Homo sapiens: one gene and its partners. The protein of the gene in region 2 purifies or fractionates together with the protein of the main gene of each other region. This does not show direct contact. Each region holds a gene or a part of one and is shown on either strand. Other genes may lie near its edges. The genes, in order: TMPO, FMNL1, CWF19L1, ARHGAP4, RALY, CAP1 and LSP1.

Region 1 (4,150 bases), on a different chromosome or scaffold from region 2:
CAGTTCGTTCACTTATTTATTTAAAAGTCGGTGGGTAGACAGAGTCTCATTATGTTGCCCAGACTGGTCTCGAACTCCTGGGCTTAAGCAATCCACCTGCCTTAGTCTCTTGAGTAGCTGGGACTACAGGCATGTACCATTGTACCTGGCTCCAAAAAAACAGCTTAATTCTGAGCAGAAGTACAGTAACTTTGTGATGAAGAATTAAAAATAAAGATTCCCTACTAGAATACACTAGTACTTGTTTAAATGTATCTGAATACCTAATTCCTGTTGGTGTAGATGCTTCATAGGGGAACATTTCCTTAAGAATATCCCTTTCTACTCTTCTTTCCTCTGTTTTTTCTCCCACCTAATAAGAAACAGACAAACAAACAACCACAAGTTAAAATTTAGTGTAAACATGCAATAATTAAAACATAAATAGTAAGTTTTAGAGAACAAAATGCCTTTAAATCTATCATAGATTTTACAGCTGCCATTTCTAAATTATTATTTAGGTATCCACATGCTTCCAAGGCTCTCTTCAAATTTCTTGAAGATACCTTATATATGTGGTTATTGGAGTGAAAAACTGCCACACATTTAAATAACTGGGGGGAAAAAATTCAGTAATCTAACATGGCAATGCTAATTCCCTCATTGATTTTGTTTTTTACTATTAAGAGTATATTGTTGGGCCGGGTACGGTGGCTCACGCCTGTAATCCCAGCACTTTGGGAGGCTGAGGCGGGTGGATCACCTGAGGTCAGGAGTTCGAGACCAGCCTGACCAACATAGTGAAATCCCATCTCTACTAAAAATACAAAAATTAGCTGGGCGTGGTGGCGGGCACCCGTAATCCCAGCTACTCAGGAGGCTGAGGCAGGAGAATCGCTTGAACCCAGGAGGCGGAGGTTGCAGTGAGCTGAGACCGTGCCACTGCACTCCAGCCTGGGCAACAGAGCAAGACTCCGTTTCAAAAAAAAAAAAGTATACTGTTTCTTCATTTATTAAGAATTCTGTAGTAAAAGATAAAATACAGAAGATACTTAACATGAACCTTTAGCAAACTTTACTATATGTTTTAAAATTATAGTCAATGCAATATGCCCAAATTAAAAAAAATATAATGTTTAGCTTGTTTTACTGTTTACCTTTATGTCCAGAACAAAATAATAAATGTTTCGGCTCCTTTTGTAAAGATTCATTCAAATTAAAATGCACCATGCAGTTAGTACTTTCAAGCTTAATTACACAGGAGTTAACCCATTCCAGCACCACATGAAGTTATGTTAAAGTCTCTTATTTGACCCGTCAACAAAAGAAAGTGTAGCCTCCCTCATAGCCCAGCAGCACTTTCAAACTTGCATCCATGACAAACAGAACATATTATAAGCAGAACAGAAATGACCACTCCCTTGAAAACTGGAACTTAAGAGGGATACAGTGGCAAGAGGATAGTATTAGCATGTCAAACTATATTAGTTAATTTCTGTTTTCACTAATAAAAGTGTCCTTAAAATAATTTATGCATATTTACACACACCACCCAATAAAGAAAGCTCTGCTCCCTCCCACTCCAAAAAAAAAAAAAAAAAACAAACAAATATTTATATTTCCTCTTTGAAAGATCAATGATAGCATCGATCTAAATTGTATTCATTTACTTCAGCTCTTGTCAATGGTTTCTTTGGTGCTCTTCTGGGTATGTCTGAGAATTCAGTGATTGGCAGAATAGGAGATGCATGCTTGAAATTTCCAGTCACCCTATTGACAACCTGCCAAGATTCAAATTATTCAGACTCAGAATTATCCAAACATAACACAGACACTTAAAAAGAAAAGAAAGATATTTTATCTCTGTAATATTAGAAATTTTCCCTTAGTAAAGATTTAAGCAACACAGCCTACAAACACAACTTAGTGCCTCACATATGAAGCCTCATTCTTCAAATATTTTAACAAAAAATATCCTTATACTTTCTTGTACAATGAATTAGATTTCTTTACATAAATTGGATATTATAGGAAAATTCTAAAATTCAGAACTATATGGGGAAAATCAGTTTAAAATTGTTAAAAAAAAAAAACATGTAAATTTGAGATTTGCCAAAATTCACCACCTCCCCATTTCCAATTAAAGGGTAATTTACAAAGAATACCACTTGTATAGTTTATGAAACATATTTACTAAGGATTCGTTGCTTGAAGCCATTATAGTTTCAGCTATGGGAGTACTCTCTGAAATTACTGGACCATCTATACGAAAATGTTCTGAAGTTTCCACCTGTTAGTTTGAAAACAAAACAAAAACAATAAATATAAAATAATACTAAAACCCTACAAATCTGAAAACCCAAGGAATAAGCCTTGCATCACCCTTTTCCTTGGAGTTCTTCTTGACCCTCTTGTAGATTCCCTAGTTAATGCCTGCAGAGGTCCGCCTTTTGAAGATCCACTTGTCCATTCAGTCTCAGTTATTCCAGCTTGAGAATAGCTCTATTCAAGCATCAACACATTAAAAAGTCATATTCTAACATCAAATACTTTAATAACGGCCATACTGGCACACTGAGAAGCCATGAAATAGAAGTCTCCAAATGCCAGCATTTACAAACAAGGCTATGTCCTCAAAATATTCCTAAATGTATTAATTGAACTGATATTTAGGCATCAGGAAACACTTAAAAAGTGCTAAAATACACTAAAGAATCCACCTATAGTAGCTCACAAATTATAAACATTATGGGAAAAAAAGCACATCAACTATCACCAGTTCCCTTTTTGACTCACTGTGTGCTATTTGGCTCTAGTATTGGAGCTACATCTCTGTCTAAACAAAAAGCAGACTGATCATGACTTAGAAAAAAGTCATCTATTATAAGTCAGTTTCCTTTTAAAACAAAAATACAAACTTTTGTAATTGTTAGCATAAACATTATTATTTTCATATGGTTATAATCATTTTAGTAGAATCAGTTTAAATTATAATCCCACATATAGCTTATTTGAACTAAAAAATTCTCAGGTGTCAAATTTTTCTTGGAAACAGATACAAAATTAGGTAGCCACAAAAACCCTGTGGTCACTCTTTAATGAATATGCAAGCCTAACGTCACTTTCAAATCTCAATGCTATCCATGTCACTACAGAAAGACAGAAAACAGCTGCCTCAGATTAATTCTCAGTCTCAGATTAATTTCTATGTTCCACTGATCATTTTTAAAGAATCCAGCATTTCTTACATACTGGTTTAAAACCCATTAGATCAGTTCTTCTTAAATTGTAATGTGCCTATCAATCACTTGAAGCTTCTGTTAAATGCAGATTCTGATTCTGTAGCTGTAGGGCCCGAAATTCCGCATTCCAAGTAGTTTAAGGTTTTCAGTTTTGAAGTCGCTATTACCAGATGATTCTTTTAAATTCTTTTAACTACAGAACATCCATCAATGATCAGTATTATAGTAGAGTGTCCTTCTGTTGTCACTTTTGCTTTCACGCCAATATTTAACCTAGATTACTGATGGTTTTAGGTCCAAGTCAATGTCTATTAAAGACAGATTTTTTTTTTAAACTTTAATCCTGTGACAGGAGTGGTCATCCAATAAATATGCCTAAATGGCTGGATGTAATACTACCAAAACCCCACAAGTTACAGACATAGTCTCATAAATCATGGTTTTGTATTTATCTATATTTGGAATTGATATTATAAGAGTTTTAAGTCACAATCTGAATCTCTGGGTTCCTCATCCTATCAATTAGGAAGTATTTGCTGAATGCAAAATTATTGTCAAAAGAGAAACTTGTAAACAAATTACAGACATACACAGAGTAACTGCTTTTTAATTTTTATTTTATTTATTTTTTTGAGACAGAATCTCGCTCTGTTGCCCAGGCTGGAGTACAGTGGTGCAATCTCCACTCACCGCAACCTCCACCTGCGAGGTTCAAGTGATTCTCCTGCCTCACCCTCCTGAGTAGCTGGGATTACAGGCACGCACCAGCACACTTGGCTGATTTTTTTGTATTTTCAGTAGAGACAGGGTTTTGCCATGTTGGCCAGGCTGGTCTCCTGACCTCAGGTGATCCACCCACCTGGGCCTCCCAAAGTGCGGGGATTACAGGTGTGAGCCACTGCACCTGGCCAGAGTAAGTGGTTTTTAAT
Region 2 (4,150 bases):
TCTGAATTCACACTGCCAGGGTTCAGGCGCATCCCAGCTCACCATTTACTGGATAAGTCACTTAATCTCCCTATCCCTCACTTTCCTCGCTTCTAGAATAGGAATGCTAATAATAGTAGCTTCCTGTCAGGGTTGTTGGGACTATGGAATAGGCTTAGAACAGTGCCTGGCACATAGTAAGTGCTATATGACTGTACTCCCTTATTCTTCGCCAACAAATGTGTGATGTTTTCATTGTTGCAGAACTGCCGACCGGGACTTCCACATGTCAGTCTCTCTGATGATTCTATCACATTCCCAGTAATACCAGGAGGCCCCGCCTTCACCCCCTCCTGCCACATCACCCTTTCTTGTCATTGTGCTAATATGTCAGAGTTTTTGTTCATGCTGTTCCTTCTGCCTGGAATGCTCTTCCCTGTTCCCATGGCTGCCTGTAAAGCCTGTATCTGTCTGTAAGACACAGTTCCAGCGTCACCTTTTCTGGGAAGCCTTCCTGATGTCCCAAGTGGTGGCCACCTCCCTTCTCAGAGCTCCCAGGCACACTTCCATGACAGCCTGTCACACTAAATTGTCCCCCACTTAGACTGTGGGCCCCTGAGGGCAGGGTGACCTGTCTCCTGGGCACCTGCCATATACCTAATACATACTAAGTGTTAAAAAAATGTTTGCTGAATGCATAATTGCATGAATGGACAAATAACATATTGTGAAAGTTTGAGGCTTAATATGCAATCAATCCTCTAGACCCAAAGCAGGAAGCTAGGGATTCACAAGATGCTCTAGGGTCCATCTACTGCCTGCTTCCTGCCTCCCAGCAAGATGCCCGTGTTAGGATGGAGGAACCCAGCCACAGCACTGAACCCAGGGACATCAGTTGAATACCTCATCCTAACCCACCACCACCCTGGGAGGGAGTCAGCCAGGCATGCACCTGCCCCTAGATGGCTACGTACCGGGGAGAAGGGGGACACCTGGAGGCCGCATGGGAGAAAACAGGGGATTAGATGCATACAAGAGGGGTCCCACCAACCCAGAAACTCCCTTCTTATCCCAGACCCATCCAGACTCCAACTTCTAGGTGCCCACCCCGATGGCTTCTTTTTTCTTTTCTTTTCTTTTTTTTTTTTTTTTTTTTTTTTGAGACAGGGTCTCACTCTGTCACCCAGGCTGCAGTGCAGTGGTGCGATCTCAGCTCACTGCAACCTCCATCCCCTGGGCTCCAGCGATTCTCCCACCTCAGCTTCCTGAGTAGCTAGGATTACAGGCGTGCACCACCACACCCGGCTAATTTTTGTATTTTAGTAGAGATGGGGTTTCACCATGTTAGCCAGGCTGGTCTCAAACTCATGTCCTCAAATGATCTGCCCACCTCAGTCTCCCAAAGTGCTGGGATTACAGGCATGAGCCACAGCACCCAGCCCCACCCCTGATGGCTTCTTAACATACTGGTGTCCCAAACTCTGTATGAGTCCCTTACTCGGACCCCTAATGCATGGCTACCCCTCTCGCCAACCCCAAGGGCCCGGGGTGGGCTGGCTAGATGCAGCAGTGTGGGGGCTGAATTCTCTGTTCTCCCACCACCCCACTTTGTGGCCCACATACTTGATGGTCAGGTGGCGGCTTTTGGGCACGGAGGAGGGTGGACCCTTGCTGAGGTCTTCCACAGACTGCTCCAGGGGCTTGTTTTTCTCTGAGTTGGAAGCCCCGTTGTCTGTGCTCTCCATGTCATACCTGGGGACAGGATGCAATGGGGCTGGAGGCCAACACTGCAGGGGCCACTTAAGAGGGGGCAGAGGAAACGCAAGGAGAGACAGACCTGCAGGTGAGACTAAGGAGCAGGAGGAGGAGGCTGTGTTCTTGGCACTGTGCTGAACATAGTGGTGGAAGAGAGGCCACCCCTCCCTGTCGGGGGCAGGCCTTCTGGAAGGAGCATCGCTCAAGGCCAAGTGGAGGGTTCCAGGGTAGGCTCGGGCTGCCTGGCTTGAAACTGGCCAGGGGAGTGGGTGAGATGCAGGGAGACGGGGATCAAAGCTCTGAGGAGCGGCATGAGGGCTGGGAGCAGGGGGCTTACGTGACAGAGCACTGGGCAAAGGCCAGGTACTCGAGCAGCACATCCAGGCCACGGTTCTCTTCATTGAGGAACTCCTGCACCCACCTGTGGGCACAGGGCTCCCTGAGCTCCAGCCAGAAAGGAGGTCCTGCCCCACATGGGCACAGAACAGGGACAGCAAGGACCCCTGGGGTGCCCTTTCAACCCCCAAAGACCCAATGATACCAAAGGATTCTGGGAGACTCAGGTGGGTCCCACAGCCCAGCCATGCCTCAAGGTGCCAGTCAGAGCATGGGCAGGAAGGGGAGGGGAAGCTGTCCTGGACACCTCCAGGAGGTGGTCCACAAGCACAGCCTTGTGCAGGGGGCAGGGGGAGTAGGAAGGGGAAGCTCCAGGAGCTGCCTGGAAGCAGAGCCTTCCTAGGCCCAGAGAGGAAGATCTGAGCCCTCACTCACCCAATGTGGTTGGTCCTCAGGGAGGTCTCCAGCTCCCGTAGCACCTGCGTGGACTCCTGAACTCGCCTCTTAAACTGGGGACCGAGAACAGGGAAGGCTGGTGGGTGGAGCCCGGCCTCCCACAGGCCCACCAAGTCCTGAGGCAGCAGGCAGCAGCGCCCACCCTCCTCCAACTGGCACAAGTGGCCTTTCATGCTCAGCCTCCCCCACCACCTCCACACACCTGCCCAGCAGAATAAGAACTCACAGGCTACATGTGCTCCCCCATACATAGACAAGCAGGGTACACACACCCCCGATACATGGGCACACAAGGTATACACATGCACACACACAAAGAGGCAGAGTGTGTGTGCGCACACACACACACAGCACATGAACATCCATATACCTGCACTCTAAATACAGACATAGAATATCCACACATCCATACATGGACACACACACACACACATTCTCTCTCTCTCCTAGATATGGACTCAATGGTACACACACACATCCATAAGTGGACAAAGTACACACATAGTATACACACACACCTATGTATGGACATATGGGCTGCACATGTGTATACACACAGTATAAGTACACAGAATGTGTCCATGTAAGCACACACAGGATGTACAGAGGAATATCTAAAGTGCACACCCAGGGCACTCTCATTCCCCTATAAATACACAGACACACAAACACACACACACACTCATACATGCACCCACACACGCACATAGAAAAGTCTGTACACACAGTTACTCCAGCTGCCCAGAGCTTGGAAAATGTGGGGGAAAGGGACAGAGTAAAGAGGGGAGACATGTACCCCCAGGTTGGACATCCAATCAGCTGCTACCTTTCGGCTGACCCCACCAGTATCCACATAGCTCTTCAGCTTCTGGATGTAGGCTGCGGGGGGATTCTTGACTTGAAACCGCTCCTGGGGAGATGGAATGGGGTGTACAGAAAACCAGCCAGAGCTACCCCAGGGCAAATGACCAGTTCTCGTCCCAGTGTCCCATTCTCAGCTCCGATCTGAGGTCCCAGGCTTTCTTAAGACGCCTCTGAAATACCAAAGGTATAAACCCAAACAGTCCACCAAGCCACTTTCTTTTTTTTTCTTTTCTTTTATCTTTCTCTTTTCTTGCCCTGTGGCCCAGGCTGGAGTGCTGTGGCACGAACATAGTTCACTGGAGCCTCCTACTCCCGGGCTCAAGCGATCCTCCTACCTCAGCCTCCCAGGTAGCTGGGACTACGGGTGTGCACCACCACGCCCAGCTAGCATCGGGCCACTTTAAAAACCCCTGGCCTAGGCCTAGCCTGCCCTTCCTGTATGGGCTCCCAGGCCACAGCCCTGACACAGCTTTGGGGTGGACTATGCAGGGGTCAGTCCTGCCGTAGGCCCCGCCCTGGGGTGGGAAGGAACTCAGTCTAGCCAGCAGGTGGTGCCCTCCCTGGACCAGAGCTGGCATACGGCGGGGAAGGACGGCTGGAGGTGCCTCGTGAAGGGGACCCAGCACCTGGGTAGGACTCGGACCCAGCCGCCCTGCACATCTGCGTTGGCAGGAACCTGCGTGCTCCTCTCCTGTGCTCAGTGATGCAATTCCTAATCCCCCCACCCCACTGCAGGCTCCAGCGGCCACTCACACAAAGA
Region 3 (4,150 bases), on a different chromosome or scaffold from region 2:
ACAGGTGACCGCCACCATGCCCAGTTAATTTTTCTATTTTTAGTAGAGATGGGGTTTCATCATGTTGGCCAGGATGGTCTCAACCTCTTGACCTCGTGAACTGCCCACCTCGACCTCCCAAGGTGCTAGGATTACAGGTGTGAGCCACCACGCCCAGCCTACTTTATTAGTTCCTTAACCCCCTGCAATCAGTTTCCCTCTCCCATCACTCTCTTAAAGGTCACCCTATATTTGCCAATGTTCTCCTGAAACTATGTTATCTTCAGTAGATTCCATGAAGTTGACAATATCTTTACCTCTCAAACAGTCCTCTAAGCACTTTTATGTCTTTGTTCCTACCCCCTAGATGAAGATATACCATCCCCACCCACCAAGGTACTATCATCAACCTGCTTCCCTTCTGATTGTATTTCTTCCTTAATAATTTGATCCTCTTCTCAGCTCTATTTTTCATCATTATGGGACCAACTCTCCAAAGCCTATACTCTTCAACACTGATACTCTAGAAAGAACTCTCGGACCAGCACAGTGGCTAATGCCTGTAATCCCAGAACTTTGGGAGGCTGAGGCAGCTGGATCACCTCAGGTCAGGATTTCGAGACCAGCCTGACCAACATGGTGAAACCCTGTCTCTACTAAAAAATACAAAATTAGCCGGGCATGGTGGCACACACCCGTAACCCCAGCTACTCAGGAGGCTGAGGCAGAAGAATCGCTTGAATCCGGGAGGCAGAGGTTGCAGTGAGCCAAGACTATGCCATTGCAATTCAGTCTGGGCAACAAGAGCGAAAGTCCATCTCAAAAAATAATAATAATAACTCTCACTTCCAACTATATGTTGGATGTCCTACCAGTATTTCAAGCTCACTATCACATGTTCACTACCAAGTTCACTGCTTGATCCTCCTACTGGATCCAAAAAATCTATTTCACAGAAATAACCCAAGTACCTTAGCTGCTCTTTCCTTTCCTGGCACTAAATTCATATAGTAAAATGGCTGCCAAATATCTACAGTAATGCCCTTAATCCAAATCTACAAACTATACCAAGAACTGCATAAGTCAGGCTCATGTTAAAATCTACAACAGAATTTCAAAATGCGTATCTGATATGTGTAGTTAAAACTAAACAGTGCTCACTTCAGCAGCACATATACTAAAACTGGAAAGATAAAGAGAATATTAGCACGGCACCTGCACAAGGATGACATGCAAATTCATGAAGAGTTCCATATTAAAACAACAAAACAAATAAAGTCCTTCCTTCAATTTTTGCTTAAAGAAGTCCCACAGGATTAGTGCAAAATAAGACTGGTAACGGGAGGGCCATAGCCAAATAAAGACTAAAGGCCAAGATGAACTATGATGGGGAAGGAGAGAGAGGACATTTACAGCAAAGGAAATGAAGAAGTTTTCTAGAGAAATAAGACCAACAAGGAGGAAATGTGAAGAATAGTAAATTCAACTAAAAAAAAAAAAAAAAGCCGAGCACAGTGGCTCACACCTGTAATCCCAGCACTTTGGGAGGCTGAGGCAGGCGGGTCACCAGGTCAGGAGATCGAGACCATCCTGGCCAACATGGTGAAATCCCGTCTCTACTAAAAATACAAAAATTAGCTGGGTATGGTAGTGCGTGCCTGTAATCCCAGCTACTCGGAAGGCTGAGGCAGGAGAATCACTTGAACCAGGGAGTCGGATGTTGCAGTAAGCCGAGATCATGCCACTGCACTCCAGCCTGAGCAACAGAGCAAGACACTGTCTTAAAAAAAAAAAAAAAAAAGAGTTGAATGATCTAAGAGGCAGCAGACTGCCAGCAGGTGGGGGGAAAACAAAAGCAAAATTTGACAGTGCTTTTGAAAACAGCCAGACATTGAAAGAGCCACTAAAAGCAATACAGAGGGCTGTGGAGGAAACAACTTTAAGCTGGAACTGAAGAGTGTACCTAGAACCAGAAAAAGGAGAGTAAAAAAAGAGTAAAAAGCCCCCAAAGAACAGCACTAAAAACCTGAGTTGCCAAAACCTTAGAGTGAAACCTAGAGCTATAAATAGTTGGGAGGCTCATTAACAAGTAAGCTGTATATACCTAGCAAGATTGTATGGTAAAGCCACATACATGAAATTTCCTTTGTGTGAACATAATTTATACCTTAAGTATCCCATATACTATAGACAAGGAGTTTATCCCTCCAGTTGGCTAAACAAGTGTGTACCGGGTTGTGGGAACGCAACGATATTGGGGCTAAGTGGTAGAAATAATAAAGAAAAAATGCCACTGTCCTAAAGGCATTGTCCTAAGGGCACAGCAGCACATATACAGACTCTGGGAAAAAACCCTCCAAACCCCATTATCTCAGGCTGCAATCACTGAAAAATCTAGCCAAAAATTTCCTGGGAGACTAATTCCTGAGAACACTATATTATGTTCATTACAAATACAACAAATATCGGCCAGGCGCGGTGGCTCACGCCTGTAATCCCAGCACTCTGGGAGGCCGAGGTGGGCGGATCACGAGGTAAGGAGATCGAGATGATCCTGACTAACACGGTGAAACCCTGTCTCTACTAAAAATATAAAAAAAATTAGCCGGGTATGGTCACACACGCCTGTAATCCAAGCTACTCAGGAGGCTGAGGCAGGAGAATCACTTGAACCCGGGAGGTGGAGGTTACAGTGAGCCAAGATTGCGCCACTGCACTCCAGCCTGGGTGACAGAGCAAGACTCCGTCTCAAAAACAAAAAACAAAAAACAAAAAAAAAATACAACAAGTATCAGCTTACCCAGATAAGTAATGTTTTCAGCTAATTCACATCCATCAGCATCCTGGAAATATTTTACTGTTTCCTGGTTATTAGCACCAAGCACATATGTCTGAATAGGAGCTAGTGAGGGAAACAGACATGACACCATATAGTTACCAGATCTGCTTTAGAACTTAAGATATGCCTCTCTATAGAAAAAATACTTATATTAAAAGTAAATAGTCCATGCATTCACATTCCCCATATTTAGCAATCCTAAATGTGGAACAGCTATCCACTAAGGATATACTACACCCAACCTTGTAGCTTGGCTATTTTATTTATTTTATTTTTTTTTTTTTGAGACAGAGCCTTGCTCTGTCGCCCAGGGTGAAGTGCAGTGGTGCAATCTCGGCTCACTGCAATCTCCGCCTCCCAGGTTCAAGCAATTCTCCTGCCTCAGTCTCCCGAGGAGCTGGGATTACAGGCATGCGCCACCATGCCCTGCTAATTTTTATATTTTTAGTAGACACACGGTTTCACCATGTTGGCCAGGCTGGTCTTGAACCCCTGACCTCAGGTGATCCACATGCCTCGGCCTCCCAAAGTGCGGGGATTACAGGTGTGAGCCACTGCGCCGGATAGTCTTAATAATGAAAAGCAACTTAAATTCTTAAATACTGAAAATAACTCTTAAATTCTTAAATAATGAAAAACAACTCTGCAAGAACTCTGGCCCTTGAAATTTTATTAGAAATCATATGTTAAATAAAAATAATTTCTATACCTTTCTTGATGCCAGTCTTATACTCCTCCCATTCAGCATCTTGGGTGGAGCCAAAGAAATTTCCTACACACAACAGCAGCTAAAATGAGTTTTTTAAACAGATATATGAGATTTTAAAATATCAAACAGTACATAATTGATAGTAATATTCAACTAGTTATTTAATAGTTTCAAATCAGTTTTTAATTCTTAATCAATTTGCAGATTTCAATATACAATTCTTTAGCAGCAACTGTTAACAGTTACTGATTCTATGAATTATTAAGTTTTGGCTCTTTGGCTGTCAAATTCAAGTTAGAGATGGGTAAGAGAGAGTCAAGGAACTAAACTTTTAAAGTAAGTTAGAATTCAAGTGCTCCTCAAATTCCCAGTCCCACTCTGCCATTCATGGCTCTCTCCACATATCCTTCCCTGGAATATACAGTCACATAGAAATAGATCTTTAAAGAATCCCCGTGTGAAACAAAAAAACTTAAAATATTAGAATCTGAGAAATACAAGGTATAAAAAACACATTTCCTGCCTGTTGTCTTTACCCAACCTTTAACCCAATGAACAAATTATCCTCATACCTGGAATACTCTCTTCTGTACTCTTAGGAGTTTACAGTCTAGTTGGCAACC
Region 4 (4,150 bases), on a different chromosome or scaffold from region 2:
GGCCTCAGTGCTGTCCTGCTGAACACCGGAAATGACCCAGAGCATCAACATCAGGCAAGGCCACTGTGTGACCTTGATGGGCGAAGACAGAAACAAGACCACTCTGCGATCACGCATGAGTGAGGACAAAATCAAGAACTTCTTCCGAGCCACAAAATCATCCCTCCATCCTGGCTAATGTAAGTGACTGTCACTTCCTTGCATCACTTCAGCCTCCATCACTGTCTCTTTCTAGATAAGATTAATCAAGACATCCAATCATACAATTACCCTGCTTCCAGAAGGCATCCAATCCAGGACCAAGCCCCACTTACCTGGGCCCTCCCCCAGATCCCCTAAGGCAAGCCCAAGTCCTCTAAGGCCTTTCCACTACCCTCTCACTGAGAGGCCCCAGGCTCCCCACGGAGCAGGGCTCCCTCCAGCAATGGAGATTATAGGGCTGTTCCTGCTAGGCTTTGGCTGGAGGGTGTGGAACTAAAACCAGGTAGTTCCAAGGAAATCCACACAGCAGAGTGAGCCCCCAGCCCTCTCACCCCCTCTCCTCCCTAGACAGGGTCAGAAGAGTTTCTACTGGGGAAACTGGCCGGGCCAGGAGGAAACACCACAGACACCCACATTTGTGGGGTATGTGTTCAGGCCTCTTCTTAAATATGAACTGATGGCCAAGAATCACCAAACAGACACGATCAGCAGAAAACTAACTATTTGCTCTCTGGAAAGGATATAGCAGGGATTTTGGACTCACGAACAAAAGCAAGAAAATAGAGCAAATGCAGGAACAGGAGAAAACAAAAAACATTTCAGGCCGGGCATGGTGGCTCACGCCTGTAATCCCAGCACTTTGGGAGGCTGAGGCAAGCAGATCACCTGAAGTCAGGAGTTCGAGACAAGCCTGGCCAACATGGTGAAACCCTGTCTCTACTAAAAAATAAAAATAAAAGGGTCGGGCACGGTGGCCCACACCTGTAATCCCAGCACTTTGGGAGGCCGAGGCAGGCGGATCACCTGAGGTCAGGAGTTCAAGACCAGCCTGGACAATATGGTGAAACCCTGTCTCTACTTAAAATACAAAAATCAGCCAGGCGTGGTGGCGGGCACCTGTAGTCCCAGCTACTCAGGAGGCTGAGGCAGGAGAATTGCTTGAACCTGGGAGGCAGAGGTTGCAGTGAGCCGACATTGCGCCACTGCACTCTAGCCTGGGCGACAGAGAAAGAGTCTGTCTCAAAAAATAAATAAATAAAATAAATTAAATTTAAAAAATTAAAAAATTAGCCAGGTGTGGTGGCAAGTGCCTGTAATTCCAGCTACTCGGGAGGCTGAGGCAGGAGAATCACTTGAACCCAGGAGGCGAAGTTTGCAGTGGGTCAAGATCGTGCCACTGCACTCCAGCCTGGGCGACAAGGGGGAAACTCCATCTCAAAAAAAATAAAAGCTTCAGAAAGATTCAAGAAGTACTGTATTCATGAAATAAGAATAAAGGGTTGGCCGGGCACAGTGGCACACCTGTAATCCCAGCACTTTGGGAGGCCGAGGCAGGCCAATTGCTTGAGCCCAGGAGTTTGAGACCAGCCTGGGCAACATGGTGAAACTCCCTTGCTACAAAATATAGAAAAATTAGCCTGGCGTTGTAGTGCAGGCCTGTAGTCCCAGCTACTTGGGAAGCTGAGATGGGAGGACCAGAAGGTTGCATCTGCAGTGAGCTGAGATCACATCACACCCCTGCACTCCAGCCGAGGGGACAGAGTGAGACCCTGTTTCAAAAACAAAACACAACAAAACAAAACAAAGAATACAGACATTTTCAGATGTGCAAAGTCAGGAAACCCTTGGTGAAGGTGTCACCAAAATAAGGGTATCAAACTAAGAAAGCTGCTGCCGTGGAATCCGGAAACAGAGCACTGGGCAGAAGTGAAGCACTCCAGACTGGAAGGCTCTGGGGGAGGGCGCAGAGGAGAAGGTTGACCTCACAGGTGCCTGGTGTGGAGGACAGTGCTGGGACGAGGTAGCGATCAACTCCTAGCAATGGGCATGTTCTAGCAAGCAGCATTCCTGAGGCAAGAGAGTTATAAATTCCAGAAGAAAAGGAAAAATTGTCCAAGGAAGGACATGTGATCCTAATACAGTACATGGCTCAGCTGCCAACAGTACCTGTTGTCATGGTGATTTAAACATTGAATGTTAATTTAGCCAAAAATTCTGGGATAAGCCCACTGGGAGAACAAGATGCAGGGAAGCGTGTGGTGGCTGTGAGAGATGCTGGTGGCACTGGGTCATCATTGGCCAATGGAAAATGGCTGCTTGACACCGGGAGGTGGGTGGCTGTTTCTGGGGGTGGGAGCTGGGAACGGGAGGGGTGGGTTAGGGAGCAGCTGTGACGCCATCGGAAGCCCTGGTGATGCCGGACTCTTCGTAAAGTTCCAAGTCGGCCCGAAAGGGGCCCAATGTAATCCCAGATCATTGACAATGCCCATCAGGATAAACTGCTGCAGGAAAAACTAGCTCGACGGAGAAGGATAAAGAAGCCCCATTCCATCTTACTGCCAAGTTTGTGTCACGAAATTTAAAAACACAGAGAAACCAGCCTAGAACAATGTATGGGCAGCTACACGGCTGCCTGCTGCACGGTTTGAACAGTTAGTGTCTTGCCCTCCTTGGCCATTGCGGGGGTGCACCCTTGGAGTGAGGCTGCAAATGGAAGTGGGACACTTCTCTAGCTGCCGCACTGCCTGAGACCATGGAGAACTTGGATTCCTGAGCAAAGTGTGGGTCATGCCACTCCACTGCCCACCATTACAGTGAAGGCCAGAGAATGCCAAGCCCAGCAGGGGGTGACCCTCACCTCATCCCCATCATGGGGGTGGTAGTCAAAGCGCAGCGGGGGACAGAAGACGGTAGCATGCACCTCGAGAACCTTGGCTTTGTCCCCTGGAGGATCCAGGGCCTCCACAGCTTCTTCCAGGCTGCCCAGGCCCTGCACTTGGGAGGCTTGGGTGCGGCTCTCAGCGGCCGTGTAGCTCCGGAGCACCTGCCCCAGGGCCAGGTGGAACCCTGTGTCACAGCACTGAGGAGGAAACAAGGAGATGCTTGGGTAGGTCCTGGAGCCACAGCTTCCCAGCCCCGAGGCACCAGGCACCTTTTCCCACCTGCCCACCAAGGACTCACGTCCATGAGGTCCAAGACGTCATGCAGGTAGTAGTTACTGACAGCAGCGTTGACACTAGCCAGGCTAAGCAGGTACTCGTTGCGCGCCTTTGTGCACTTGAGTTTGTGCTCCATGAACTTGGCCTGCCGCTACTCAAGACAATGCAAGCGTGCCAGGGTCACGCACGTGGCCAGCCCCTATCTCTAGCCTTTCATGTAATGCCCATCGCCTCCCCTCCCACTGTGGACAACTACACCTGAACTGGTCAAGCCCAGAAGTCCTGCTGCCTTCCCCACGCCACAGTCCACAGTGTGCTCAGCCCAGTGCCAGGAGGTGACTTGATTCCCCGGCTGTTCACCCGCCACTTGCCTTGGTTCGAGCCACAACATTCCCCACAGAAGTGGGGGATGACACAGAACTATTCACAGATACCTGATGAGTGGAAGGTGCGCACATGGCACCCCACCATGGAGGGTGCACGAGAAACCCAGCTTGGAGCCAGCACACAGGTGCACAGCTGGAAGCGGCCACAGGCCTCTGCGGGGGCCAGAGCTGAGGGGGAACGAGTACCCCAAAGGGTAGGGATAGATCATCAAGAGCCATGAAACAGAACCTGCTGGCACCTGGGTTCTAAAACTGGCACTCTATTTTTTTTTTATTTTTTTTTTTTGAGACAGAGTCTCGCTCTGTCGCCCAGGCTGGAGTACAGTGGTGCAATCTTAGATCACTGCAACCTCCGCCTGCTGTGTTCAAGTGATTCTCCCGCCTCAGCCTCCCAAGTAGCTGGGATGACAGGCACCCGCCATCATGCCCGGCTAATTTTTGTATTTTTAGTAGAGATGGGGTTTCACCATGTTGGCCACACTGATCTTGAACTCCTGACTTCGTGATCCACCCACCTCAGCCTCCCAAAATGCTAGGATTACAGGCGTGAGTCACCGCACCTGGCTAAAGCTGGCACGCTAACCACAGCAGCCAGGGAGACCTTCCCCCAACACAGCCAAACTC
Region 5 (4,150 bases), on a different chromosome or scaffold from region 2:
GTATGGTTCTTAAAATTCATATCTATAACTACTAACCAGAATGGCTTCAAATGAAAAAGATAGACAATGCCAAGTATTTACAACAACACAGAACAACAGCAATTTTCTCATCACTAACCATGTAACCTGGTAGACCTTTTAAAACTGTTTGGAGGCCGGGCACGGTGGCTCACGCCTGTAATCCCAGCACTTTGGGAGGCGGAGGCGGGCGGATCACGAGGTCAGGAGATCGAGACCATCCCGGCTAAAACGGTGAAACCCTGTCTCTACTAAAAATACAAAAAATTAGCCAGGCGTAGTGGCGGGCGCCTGTAGTCCCAGCTACTTGGGAGGCTGAGGCAGGAGAATGGCGTGAACCCGGGAGGCGGAGCTTGCAGTGAGCCGAGATCCCGCCACTGCACTCCAGCCTGGGCGACAGAGCGAGACTCCGTCTCAAAAAAAAAAAAAAAAAAAAAAACTGTTTGGCATATTTACCAAAGGTAAACATATGCCTAACCTAGGACTTACAGTATGAGGTTAGAGAACACTTACTCACTGTTCCCGCTGAACAGTTCACCTCCAGTCTTTTGCTCCATCATTGCCCCTGTCCAGATGCTTTCATCACACTTTTTCCCAATCCCAGAGACCAGCTGAGATCACTCTCCCTGCTCCCTACAAAGAGATCGATCTCCCCTCTTAAGGAAAATTCTGCCACTTACCTATTACCACTGACAAATGACTGATGGATTCTTCACATATAAATTGTCTCATGTGATTTTACAACGTTCTAATTTGCTCCTCACAATACCATTGTGAGGAAGGCAAGATATGGAGTGTTAACCCCACTTCACAGATGAGAAAATGGAACTTCAAAGAGAGAGAAGATGACATCTCCAGTTTACATGGCCTTATTATTCCAGACCCCACAGGCAATGCTAAATTGTTGGAAGAAATCGGGAGCACAACACAGCATCCCAAGTAATATTTCTCTCTGAAGGGTAGGAAAGAGGGAAGAGCCCTTCAAAACCAGGAGAGCCTCAATGTGCCCACCATTTCCATTTACTAGGGCTCCTTGCTGCAAAGTGTTCAAAGGCGGCTGGCAGTGGCAATGGGCTTCACGAACTACAATATAAACACAATTATCAAATCACAGACTGATCAAATGCCAGAAACCACACCTCAGATAATTCCACCTGCATACAAAATAGAGCTATTTTATTTCAAAATAGAGCATAATAAAACTTAAAATAATTCAACATGAAACTTAATTTTCTTCATTTCTACATAAGAAGCGAGACAATACCAAATCTTCCTGAAGCCAGCCAGAGAACTGTGTGGGTGTCCAGATGCAGATATCTGGACACCTAAACCTGAAAGGAAATGTTGTCCCCTACTCTAATATTCTTGACTTTACACACTGGGTGTTGGACACCTTAGCAACAGAGGATAAATATCTGTAAAAAACAGAAGGGAGAGAAGGGAATGCCAAAAAAATAAAGTCTACACACTGGAAGTCAGATTATCAAACTGGTCTCCTTGTCTACTGATACAGCCACCAATTATGTTATTTTCCGTTTGAACCCTCAATCCAAATATATGAGCCAGGGCGGCAGGCTGGATTTGCTTTACTTATCTGTCTTCCTCTCAAGACTGAAAGTAATTTGTGGACAGGAATTATGTCTTGTTGGTTTTTATGTTTTCCATAAGAAGAACATATAGGAGGTACTCCAAATTCCTGGAACGAATGGTTGAGATTAGGGATGGAAGGCTGTTGGGACTCCCAAGCATAAATAATCATGCCACGGCAACTAAGTAACTTCCTCTGAACCCTAATTTTAGTAAGGGTTGATTTTAATTGGTGTAAGAATCAATTAGGGTGAATCTTTAAAGTCTGAAGAGAAGTTATTCTTGTGCTCAACTGATTCACGCACAGCCCTCATTATTACTTTGGCAGCAGCACCATTCCTCAGTACCACCTTACAGGTATCCGCAAAAACAAAATTCCAAAGCCTTAAATTAATGCTTCAGGTAAAAAGGAAACGACGTGGTCAGGCGCGGCTGCTCACGCCTGTAATCCCAGCACTTTGAGAGGCCGAGGTGGGCAGATCACCAGGTCAGGAGATCGAGACCATCCTGGCGAACACTGTGAAACCCCGTCTCTACTAAAAATACAAAAAAATTAGCCGGGCGTGGTGGTGGGCACCTGCAGTCCCAGCTACTCAGGAGGCTGAGGCAGGAGAATGGCATGAACCCGGGAGGCAGAGCTTGCAGTGAGCGGAGATCATGCCACTGCACTCCAGCCTGAGCAACAGAGCGAGACTCCGTCTCAAAAAAAAAGGAAACAACATTCGATTTCTCAGTATAGTGTGGTCATATCTCTTACCAAAAAAACCCAAATCTAGATAAATGAAGTTATGGAAATGACCCTTTTAAATCTACTGCTGGGCTTGCTTTCACTAACACAAAGAATTTCAAAGGAAACTAGACAAATAGATCAAGAGACACCATGTAAGCAGTACCGTTAACTAAGCTTATTAAAATCCTTAATAAAATAAACAGGAGACAGCTAAATACCAGATAAATGCCTCTGGAATGAAGAAAATCTGGCCAATAACATTAAGCTTCCAAACCTGGCATTCTAAAAGAGAATATTTACTTGGAATAAAGCAATGAGTCTTACCTTGACAAATAACAGAGCTATTCAGTCTCTACAGATGGCACTTCAAGGGCCAGGTAACCTCAGTAGAGGCATCTACTCCATAAGCTAAAGCTCTTAGGAAATGCAAGTTTCTGGTCTAGTGTTTTTCCATTATTACCATTGTGTGAAAATCTTAAAATGTTTTTTATTTTTCCTTTATTATGTGATTTTAAACAGTTTGCTACATATTTTAATGTAATTTTTTTATAGTCTTGGACTCCAAGTTTGTCCCATGAGGCTACAGCTCCAAGTTTATAATGGAACTCAGCATACAATTTGATAAATTCATCTCACAAGCAATTTTTCAGCAATCTGTCCACTCTAAAAAGCAATATCCATCTGTTTATATACTGAAAGGTATCTTTTGTGAACCCAGAATTTAACCCTCTGAGATACTCTCAATACTTTAGCAAAGCCCTTTCTCCTTCCAGAGATAAATTCTCAAGCCACTTCCACAAAACTGTAAAAAGGTAGAAATATCACTCAAGATTATCTAGTCCAATTCCCTTGTTTCACAGACAGGAAGACAGAGATCCCACAGAATATTAGATAATTACAATTAACATGGGTTTGGCAAGCAACAAAAGCCCACTGACTGCTATTTTCCCCAGTCAAACTCATTGGTGTGTTGGGAAGATAGCCAGATTTGCACTTTAGTTAGTAGAGCACTCCCTAGGAAACTCAAGTATGTACCCTCTAAGAAACCCAAGTATTCAGCCACAACCCCCTACCCCAACCCCAGAATAGAGAACAGGGGGCAGTGGATGTCTTAAATGGCTCTTCTGGAGATGGAGACTAGAGCCCAGGGACAATATCCCATCTTTCCTTCCTTCCTCCCAGGAGGTACAGGACATTGATTACCATGAAAGCCATTATGAAATGACAGAAGACACTAACACTGAGGAAATAAGGCAAGGCTGTGGAAACAAAAGATGACCAACATTAATACTTGGCCAGATACCTGCTTCTACTTATTCGTTCGAAGAGAGGGGAGAAGTGAGAGAGACAGGGACCTCCAACCCTTTTTCTGTCCCTACCTCCCCACCCCCACTCTTTGGGCCTTTATAGAATTTCAGGGACCCCCCCAGATGATTTTATGAGGAAACAGGGCTATAAAAAGAAAGGACCTTAGTCCAGCCCACACACTGACCAAACGATGCTCAGGCTAGTGACAAGACTTCCTATTTATTCCACTGCACTCTGTCTCTATTCCTAAGGGTCTGTGAGCTGCACCCTGAGCACAATTTCCTTACAGTACCCAGGGGGAAGTTGTAGGACAAGCAGGTTAACATTACGGCTGTCATTTTCTCCCTTCCAGCTATATAGACATGAAGCCAAAATTGAATAAGACCAAGACACTCAAGTGAAAACCTTGCTATCTCCACCCCTACTATATCCCCTCACCAATGCCAAACTAAGAAGGGGGAGAAGAAGAAAGAAATACCTCTCCTAGAGATATATTATCTAAACCAC
Region 6 (4,150 bases), on a different chromosome or scaffold from region 2:
CCGCCTGCCAGAAAGAAGAATCAGCTATTGATGACACATTATAACTAGAGAAGTCTTGATAAGAATAACCTGAAACCTCTACTTCCATGTACTCTGATAGCAACCCAGGCACTTCATGTTATCCTCCTCATGTATTCCAGATTCCAGGGACTGAGAGCAGAATTACATACACTACTGTTCCTATTGGAACTCATCAGGGATATATATCCAGAGTTGGAAGTGAAGTTAATTGGATAATCACCTAGCTTACATGAAGTCATGTTAGCATCTTACACATGCATTGTGATACCGTGCACTGAAAAATCCTTCCTATTTCACATCAGCAAAATAAAACAAACAGCAACCAAAAAAACACCTTTCTTTTCTCAAAAATTGGAGACAGGAGTAAAGGCAAAGGCCTAAATTTCTGCTGAAAATTCTCAAGGTATTTACTCCTTTAGATTAAAGCTATCTCTCAAATGCCAGATACCATGACCCATTAATAAATAATTAAATCAATTTAGTGAGCTTAATGGAACAAAAGTATGAGTGCAGTGCACCAACTTCAAGTTATTTCCAAATAAAAAGTTAAAAAAAAAAAAAGTACAGCAGAAGTAGTATAAATATCATCTTGTGAAACTTTTATCTCAGTTACGAATATGTTCTTTCTTTCTAAGGGTCATTCGCAGTCAAAAGAATTTAAGAAACATGAGACTGTAAGCACTATTAAAATACAAAAATTCAAAGAAAGCAATCTATTTTTTCTGGATTTGCATTTTTAAAATACAAATGATAAATGTTTTAAAGTTTTTTCAAATGTTACAGAACTGTATTAAGTAAAAATGCAAGCCTCCACACCCTTATTAAAGTCCCAGTCCCACTCTCTAGAGCTAAAACCATTGGCAACAGATGGTATTTGAGAGGCTCAAAATAGATTTTCCAAAAGCCAAGCAACCAGTCTTCGAGAAAGGTTTAGGTGAAGAAGTTCCCAAGCATGGTTACTGTTTATAATTCGGTGAGCTAGCAGGAAGGTTTTTGGGTCCCAAAAATAGAGGTAGAATGTATATGTGAGTGTGGGGTGGGGGTGGGGGGTGGTGGTGATGACGTAGGAGGCATAAAGGAAGGTGGGAGGAAAGGCACCTGTCATTGCCTACTTCATATTCTTGCTGTGGGTTAAGTGTGAAAATAACCCACATTAGCATAACTAATAACTATCAAGCATAGTTTTATAAATGCTAAGTCATGATAATGACTCCTTTAAATAAGCCACTGTAGGTTTGATTATGTAATATGTTGGGATCAAACTGGTGCATATTCTTCACTACAAAGATGAACAGAACCATATTTTATGTACCAAGCAAGCTTTCTGTATAAATACGTGATAAAAGCAAGGGGCCTAGAAAAAAATGAGGAATCGTTTCTGTGGCTAGACTGAACTCCTCAGTACAGGCAAAAGAGAAAGAACATGTGTAATGCCCCAAACCAAGAGGAACTTCTCAAGGAGCTCTTAAACCAAGGATGAGGACCTTGGCTGACTGAAGAAAGCTGTTAGTCCTTAAAAGAAGGGGAAAAAGGCAAAACATCCTTACATGTTTCTGCACGTCTCCCCCAATCTCTTTACTGATCTTCAAGTACTCTGCCACAGGACCAGCAAGCAGCGAGTCAAATGCCTGCACATATGGAGCTGCTCCTGCTAAAGACAAACACACCACAAAGAATCAGCCATGCATCAGAAGGAGGCTTCTTTAAAACGTGCTTCTACATGAAAGTGGGGAGGCAAGGTAATACAGTCAACAGGATACAGAACAGGAGTAAGGAAACCTGGGTTCCAGGTCCAGTATCACCACTAACTGGTTGTGTGACCCTGACTAAATTCCTTTTCCTCTCTGAGCTTAATTTTCTTTATCTATAAAATGAAAATAAACAAAATGATCCTCCAAGGTTTTTTTTAGTGCTAACATTCTATGTTCCAACTGGTGCATGTGCAAAATGTCCAATTTGCCAATTGTTTGGAGAGAGGAATTTTATTATCACTTGTCATTTGACTTACATTGGAGTCATTCTGCTAAAGAAAGAGCAGGAAATATTGCACAAGCAGGAAGTTCTTGTGTTAAAATAACTTAACCACAGGCCTCCCTGTACAAGTCATTTCCTCTCTTATCTGTTCACAGCAATACAAATTACAAAAGGTAAACTTTCTAGATTAAGTTTTGGGAAGTTAGCGCCAAAGGAGAGAATAATAGAAAATTTTCAGGCCAAGACGCTCAAAGAAAGCATTCTGCTGGGCTGTGGACTGCTTACCTTTTGAAGGACTGTCTGCATACCCACGGTGCATGTCAGAGGTATGAGATACTGCCTCCAGGCGGCCCACTGCCCTCTCCAATCTTTCTACCAGATTTTGCATGTCAGCCATAATGGACCACCTGCTGAAACAGATCAAATGTCATTTGTTATTTAAATATTAAATAGCACCTACAGAGAAAAAAACAGAAAATTCCTGGTCATCCCCAGGTGGATGAAGAGGATGCCAATTCTCAGGAACAGAATAATTTAATAAAATTAGATATCATCTGCAAAATGGAACAATACAAAAATATCAGATAAAAAAGTAGCATATTTACAAAATCAAAAGACCTCATTAAGCAAGAGAACTGCTCAGGAAAAGGTGTTCACTAAAGTAAATGCTTACTCATTCAAATACTCAATATTTACTATGATACTGTGTGTAGAAAGTTAGAATTTGCAAAGGATAGTCACATACATTATCTCAGTTTGAGCCTCCCGACAACTATTCAGGAATAGAAGGATGATTACTACACGCTTAGAGATAGAAAACTTAGTTTCAGTGAAGCTAAATGACTTGTCTAGTCACACGGCCAGTGAATAGAGAAGCCAGTACTCCATCATATCCTTATCTGATCCTTCTGGTTCTAAGTTCAGTGTGTTTTTTTCCTACAACATCCTGCTGCCTGCATGTGAAATATCCCAAACCAAGATGAATAGGATGTTTACTCTTCCCTCAATAATTTTTTTTTTTTCAGACAAAGTCTTACAATGTCACCCAGGCTGGAGTGCAGTGGCAGGATCTCAGCTCACTGCAAGCTCCACCCTGTTGGGTTCAAGGGATTCTCCTGCCTCCCAAGTAGCTAGGGTTATAGGTGTGCGCCACCATGCCCAGCTAATTTTTTGTAGTTTTAGTAGCGACAGGGTTTCACTGTGTTGGCTAGGATGGTCTTGAACTCTTGACCTCAAGTAATCCACCCGCCTTGGCCTCCCAAAGTGCTAGGATTACAGGCGTGAGCCACTGTGCCCGGCCTGCCCTCAGTAATTTATAGTCTAATGGGGAGACTTAACATATGCACTAACAACTATGAAACAAATAGAAAAAAATGTTAAGGTGACATAAGAAAGTTGCTGATAGAGAGGCATGAGATTTCAAAGAGGGGAGTAATATATCAGCTGGAAGGATCAGATAAGGATATGATGGAGAAGCTGCCATTTGAGCCAGCCTTCAAATGAAGATGAGAAAGATCTGGACATGCAGTAGGGAAGGACACTAGACACATCCAAAAGAATTTGTTATAGATCTTTCACAAGTACTATCTTATCTGAAATAGCCTAATTCAATGTCTAATATCCCAAAGAAAGTAAGCTCCAACAGAGAAAGGACCTTATATAGCTTGTTCCTTACTGTATACTCTACCATCTAGACTACTACCTGGCAGGTAGTAGATGTTCAATAAATATTTATGAAGTTATAAACCTCACAAATAGCATTCCAAAACTCCAGAGGGATAAGGGTGCTAAAAGTTGCCCATAAGTCACACATAAGTGTAAAATATGATCAATGCACCTCTACATAAAGTATTTGAGACCCTAAGTGATCTCATAAAAACCAGTCAGTGAAATTTCAATCCAAGCTTTGACTTGGAAAGATTCCATTTCACAAAAGCGTCAATTCAGGCAACTGAATTCAGTTCAGGTAACTGAAGCTGAATGAACTCAACTCCCTTGAAGCTGCCTAAAATGACAACAGCAATTATGATTCCCCCAAAGATGACAGCATGCCAGAATTATCTCAATTTAACACATTGTCCTCCCTGTGGAAGAGATAAGCAGCTCACAAGATAAAGTAAGGAAGACAATATAGTCTCTGTCCATTCTCTGTGTA
Region 7 (4,150 bases), on a different chromosome or scaffold from region 2:
AAGATCTGAGCCCAGAAAGCAGACAGACAGACAGACAGACCTCTTCTCTATGGAGCGGTTTAGGGACTCGGTCCTGTCGATGAGCTGCAGAGGGTGGAGAGAGACACAGGCCTGCAGCAGCCGAGGTAAAGCCCACCCTCCATCTCCCCAGCTACTCCAACCACTAATCCAACCCCCAACCCTTATATCATGGGGGTTCGCTGAGCACCGGGCAATGGGGGGATAGCAGACAAAAGCCAGGCCTGGGCCTGGTCTTCCTGTGGCTGGCATGTGGGATTGGCCTTTTGGGTATGAGTACGGGAGAGGGGAGAAGATGGCAGGCTTTGCAGCTTAACTTACTTTGGTGGTAGGGCTCAGGGGAGGCGAGCTCTGTTCGATGGTCCCCTCCAAGACCAAGGGGCTGGGTGTCCTGGGCTGCTGACATTTCTGGTGCTAGAAAAAAAAAAACAGACATCCCAAGTGACCCCCTGCTTGTGCCCCTCCTGCCCTGCCCAGCACCTGTGGGAACAAATGCTGTTCCTTCCTGAGCCCCAGGTTCTCTGTGGCCCTGACGTGCTCCAGTTCTGGAGCTGGTGGGGAGGGACTGAGGAGTCTGGAGAGATGTCTCCGGATCTTGCAAGAGGATCACTGAGCCTTGCCCTCTCTGAGAATGTGGGCCCAGAAGGGGCTGCAAGGTCTAGGGGTGTGGGGTGCTGACCCACTCTGGGCTAGACCCACAGGGCCCACAGAGTGGTGCAGACAGCCAAGGCAGACTCATCCCTGGGGTGGGGGTACACCCAGACCCTCTGAGGTGGAGCCATCACCTCCTCCTGTTCCTCCTCAGCCCCTGCGGCCCCCAGGTTGTCCTGGACAGTGTCCTCTGGGCCTGGCCCCTCCTTGCTCAGACTCAACTCCTCCAGGTGGACTTCATCACTGTCCTCCTTTTCGTAGGCATGCAGGCCGGGCCTGTGGGTGGAAAGGGAGGCAAAGCCGTTCTAGGGCCATTGGATTGCTTGGTTGACCCCTTCCTTTTTCCAAGCCTCAGTTTCCCCATCTGTAAAATGAAGGTAGTCAGGCTACTTGAGTGCCAAGGGATCTGAGACCCAAGCCCATTGGGAAAGAAGGTCCAGTGGCCTCAGAGCCAGCGCAGTCTGCTTGGGCCCCTGTGTCAGGGCCTGAGGCCCCTGGGGAACTGCCCAGTCCCTGCCAGACAGGGCTCTACAGACTGAGGGTCCCCCAGGCACTGAGGCTGGGTTCAATCCCCAGCTTTGTGGCTGGGCCTCAGCTTGGCAGCTGCTTGCACACCCGGTTGGTCTGACGGGGTCCCCGCGAGGCCGGGCTGCTGGGGCCACCACTCCTGCTCTGCTCCCTGTGGGGGCCCTTGGGTGTTTGGGGGACTGGAGGCTGGGTCATTTGGAGGGCTAGGCAGGGGTAGGGGCCAGGTCACTGAGGAGCAGGGCCAAGGGGCTGCCGGCTGCGGGGGAGGGGAGGCCAGCCAGCTGGCAGCTTTGAGCGGCTCTGCATTTGAGCAGGACTGAACCTGGAGGAGAAGATGGGAAATTCTCGAATTTTCCATGATTTCAGGCCCCTGGGTGTGCGTGCCAGCCAAGACCCAGACCCACCCGCCCAAGGTGGGCAGGGGTCTGAGCCAGCAGCAGCCACACAGAGGGGCCATTCAGGAGCAGGTCTGTGCAGCCAGGCAGGTGCAGGGGGTGGGGTGGCGGCCGCAGAGCTGGGCTCCACGGAAGAGTCAAAGCGCCCCCTGCTGGTGGGAGCAGCCTCGCCCGCCTAGGCCTGAGGCCAAGGGAGAAGGGAGCTGCCCCATCTCAGAAAAGCAGAGCCGCTGACTCCCAAGCACGTAGGGGGGAGACTGAGGCCCAGGGAGGGGGGCGGTGGGCACTGCGCCAGGCCAGGACCAGTGGTTCTTGGGGAGTGGGAGCCTGGTTGTAGGAGGACAAGGGAGCGTCGCTCAGCAACACTGGTCCCTAGAGCTCCAGGCTGGTTTAGGGCCTCAGAGGGGCCAGGAAGGACCCTGACCAGGGAGAACTGTCAGCCCAGCCATGGGCTCTGGTCCCACTCAAGGCAAGGGGGTCCTGAGCAGGGCTGGGGTCCCAGATGGCCCAGGCCCTGCAGGGCGGGTGGGGTCAGCCCCATCATGGCCACAGATGACTGAGAGCGGCAAGGACCCCGAGCAGGGGTAGTGAAGTGGGGCTCGGGAGCAGCCCCTGTTGGGCCTGTTGGGGTTGAGACAGGCACACACATCCCCACATCTGGAAAGTGCGTCCTCCCGGCCGACTCTCCGGCATGCACATCTGGAAATACCTGCTCCCCTCCGTGGGAATGGAGATCAGCCAGCCCCGAGGGAGGAAGGGGCGGCGGCGGGCTCTCAGCCTCCATTACGGAAGCGGCCGCAGCTGTGTGCTGATGTGGCAGCACCCGGCCTGGCCTCGCAGCTGCCTGGATGGGGCCCAGGGGCCCTGGGGAGCCCCAGAATGAGGTTTCCTCGCGGCCCCTCGCCGGCCACCATGCTGTCTCGCCCTCTTCCTCCCTCCCCTCCTGTCTCCCCCTTTCCTGGCCATGGGGGCATTTCAGGCTCTGCTTGGAAAGGGGAGGATGGGGTGGCTGCTCAGGCGCAGGTTGAGGGCCTGAAGGGAGCTCCGCGGTGCCCTGCTCTGCCCAGCGCCCGCCCTCGAGGTCCAGAGGGAGCCCTGCTCTGCCCAGCGCCCGCCCTCGAGGTCCAGAGGGAGCCCTGCTCTGCCCAGCGCCCGCCCTCGAGGCCCTCACTCACCTGTCCTCTTGCTCCCCCTCAGGACTCCTGCACTGGGGGGGCTCTCCGCTGTCCAAGGCGCCCTGCGCCCCCTCGTGCTGCTGCCGCTGCTCTGGCCTCTGGGACCAGTCGCCAAAGCCCTCGTCCTCATCCAGTTCAGGGGCCTCCGAGGGCTTCAGGCTGAGGCTGAGGGTAGCAGGGGGGAGCTTAGGCCTGGGCGGCTGCTGCCTCCTCTGCCCAGGGCCCACACTCACCTCACGGCGCCCGCTCAGGCCCTGGACTCCAAGTGTGGGAGACCCTGTCTGCCACAGAGCTGGCTCTGGGCTGTGTCTCCTGTGGTCAGAATACCTGAGGGCAGGGCTATGCCTCCCCCGTCAGTTCTGGGGCAGCCTGAGAACTGTGCTTCCTCCATCAGTCCAGGACTCCTTGAGGCTCAGCAGGGCTATGCCTCCTCCATCAGCCTGGGGCTACCTGAGGGCAGGGCTATGCCTCCCTCATCAGTTTGGGGCTCCCTGAGGGTAAGGCTGTGCCTCTTCGATCAGTGTAGGGCTCCCTGAGGACAGGGCTGTGCCTCCCCTGTCAGCCTGTGGCTCCCTAAGAGCAGGGCTGTGCCTCCCCCATCACTCTGGGACTCGCTAGGGCAGGGCTGGGCCTCCCCCGTCAGCCTGTGGCTCCCTAACAGCAGGGCTGTGCTTCCCCCATCAGTCTGGGGCTCCCTAGGGCAGGGCTGTGCCTCCCCCATCATCCTGGGGCTCCCCAAGGGCTGCCCTGGTCCCCACATGAGGACCCTACATGAGGTCCTCCTAAGCCCCGACTTCTCAGGCCTCCCATGTGGCAGGGGGAGCCCCTGGATAGCTGGGGCCCTTGGTGGGGGTGGCCAAGGGCCTGACTATGGTGACCGCTGAACCCCACTCTGCCCAAGGCTGCTGACTTGGAGAAAATGGAACAAAAGAGGCCAGAAGGAAGGGAAGCATTATTGGAAAAACAGCCCAGCCCAGCCGCGGAGGCCTCCTGGGCCCAAGGAGGAAGCAAGCCAGCCTGGCCGCCAAGTTGGACGTGGCTCTGTGAGTCACTGGCGGGGGAGTCTGGTGGGGGGCTCGGCCAGGCTGCGTGGCTGGGGTCAGAGGCGGTCCGAGCAAGGGCCAGGGCACGGACACAGAGCCTGGGTCAGCGCCCAGGAGGCAGCCAGGTATTGGCAGACCCTCCTCTAGGGCTGTGGCCACCCTCGCCCCAGGAGCACTCACCCACTCCCACGCCTGCTCCTGGGGGCCCTTCCTCGCTCTCATCCTGCACTGGAACCCCCAAGCCCAGGCCCTTGACCTCCCCCTCTGCCCAGGCCCCAGGGTACACGGATAGGGGCTAGAGCCCAGGCACGCGTTATGGGGCTGCTCACAGCATCTCCTG

Evidence for each region.
Region 1: the proteins of FMNL1 (region 2) and TMPO purify together in Homo sapiens (affinity purification with mass spectrometry, with the first as the bait; one large-scale study listed by BioGRID). This does not show direct contact.
Region 3: the proteins of FMNL1 (region 2) and CWF19L1 purify together in Homo sapiens (affinity purification with mass spectrometry, with the first as the bait; one large-scale study listed by BioGRID). This does not show direct contact.
Region 4: the proteins of FMNL1 (region 2) and ARHGAP4 purify together in Homo sapiens (affinity purification with mass spectrometry, with the first as the bait; one large-scale study listed by BioGRID). This does not show direct contact.
Region 5: the proteins of FMNL1 (region 2) and RALY purify together in Homo sapiens (affinity purification with mass spectrometry, with the first as the bait; one large-scale study listed by BioGRID). This does not show direct contact.
Region 6: the proteins of FMNL1 (region 2) and CAP1 purify together in Homo sapiens (affinity purification with mass spectrometry, with the first as the bait; one large-scale study listed by BioGRID). This does not show direct contact.
Region 7: the proteins of FMNL1 (region 2) and LSP1 purify together in Homo sapiens (affinity purification with mass spectrometry, with the first as the bait; one large-scale study listed by BioGRID). This does not show direct contact.

Annotation. Positions count from the first base shown.
Region 1 is NC_000012.12:98,542,561-98,546,710, reverse strand, and holds part of TMPO (thymopoietin), read right to left. Parts: intron 2,482-4,150; coding exon 2,362-2,481; intron 2,270-2,361; coding exon 2,174-2,269; intron 1,761-2,173; coding exon 1,650-1,760; intron 353-1,649; coding exon 264-352; intron 1-263. UniProt on the Homo sapiens protein: May help direct the assembly of the nuclear lamina and thereby help maintain the structural organization of the nuclear envelope. Possible receptor for attachment of lamin filaments to the inner nuclear membrane.
Region 2 is NC_000017.11:45,231,653-45,235,802, reverse strand, and holds part of FMNL1 (formin-like protein 1), read right to left. Parts: intron 3,437-4,150; coding exon 3,323-3,436; intron 2,580-3,322; coding exon 2,506-2,579; intron 2,156-2,505; coding exon 2,072-2,155; intron 1,732-2,071; coding exon 1,603-1,731; intron 1-1,602. UniProt on the Homo sapiens protein: May play a role in the control of cell motility and survival of macrophages. Plays a role in the regulation of cell morphology and cytoskeletal organization. Required in the cortical actin filament dynamics and cell shape.
Region 3 is NC_000010.11:100,257,439-100,261,588, forward strand, and holds part of CWF19L1 (CWF19-like protein 1), read right to left. Parts: intron 3,607-4,150; coding exon 3,528-3,606; intron 2,882-3,527; coding exon 2,780-2,881; intron 1-2,779.
Region 4 is NC_000023.11:153,915,993-153,920,142, forward strand, and holds part of ARHGAP4 (rho GTPase-activating protein 4), read right to left. Parts: intron 3,695-4,150; coding exon of another isoform or gene 3,575-3,694; intron 3,292-3,574; coding exon 3,163-3,291; intron 3,062-3,162; coding exon 2,840-3,061; intron 1-2,839. UniProt on the Homo sapiens protein: Inhibitory effect on stress fiber organization. May down-regulate Rho-like GTPase in hematopoietic cells.
Region 5 is NC_000020.11:33,999,942-34,004,091, reverse strand, and holds part of RALY (RNA-binding protein Raly), read right to left. Parts: intron 1-4,150. UniProt on the Homo sapiens protein: RNA-binding protein that acts as a transcriptional cofactor for cholesterol biosynthetic genes in the liver. Binds the lipid-responsive non-coding RNA LeXis and is required for LeXis-mediated effect on cholesterogenesis.
Region 6 is NC_000001.11:40,057,589-40,061,738, reverse strand, and holds part of CAP1 (adenylyl cyclase-associated protein 1), read right to left. Parts: intron 2,406-4,150; exon of another isoform or gene 2,403-2,405; 5' UTR 2,393-2,402; coding exon 2,281-2,392; intron 1,673-2,280; coding exon 1,569-1,672; intron 5-1,568; coding exon 1-4. UniProt on the Homo sapiens protein: Directly regulates filament dynamics and has been implicated in a number of complex developmental and morphological processes, including mRNA localization and the establishment of cell polarity.
Region 7 is NC_000011.10:1,880,214-1,884,363, reverse strand, and holds part of LSP1 (lymphocyte-specific protein 1), read right to left. Parts: coding exon 4,140-4,150; intron 2,933-4,139; coding exon 2,768-2,932; intron 946-2,767; coding exon 804-945; intron 433-803; coding exon 340-432; intron 85-339; coding exon 41-84; intron 1-40. UniProt on the Homo sapiens protein: May play a role in mediating neutrophil activation and chemotaxis.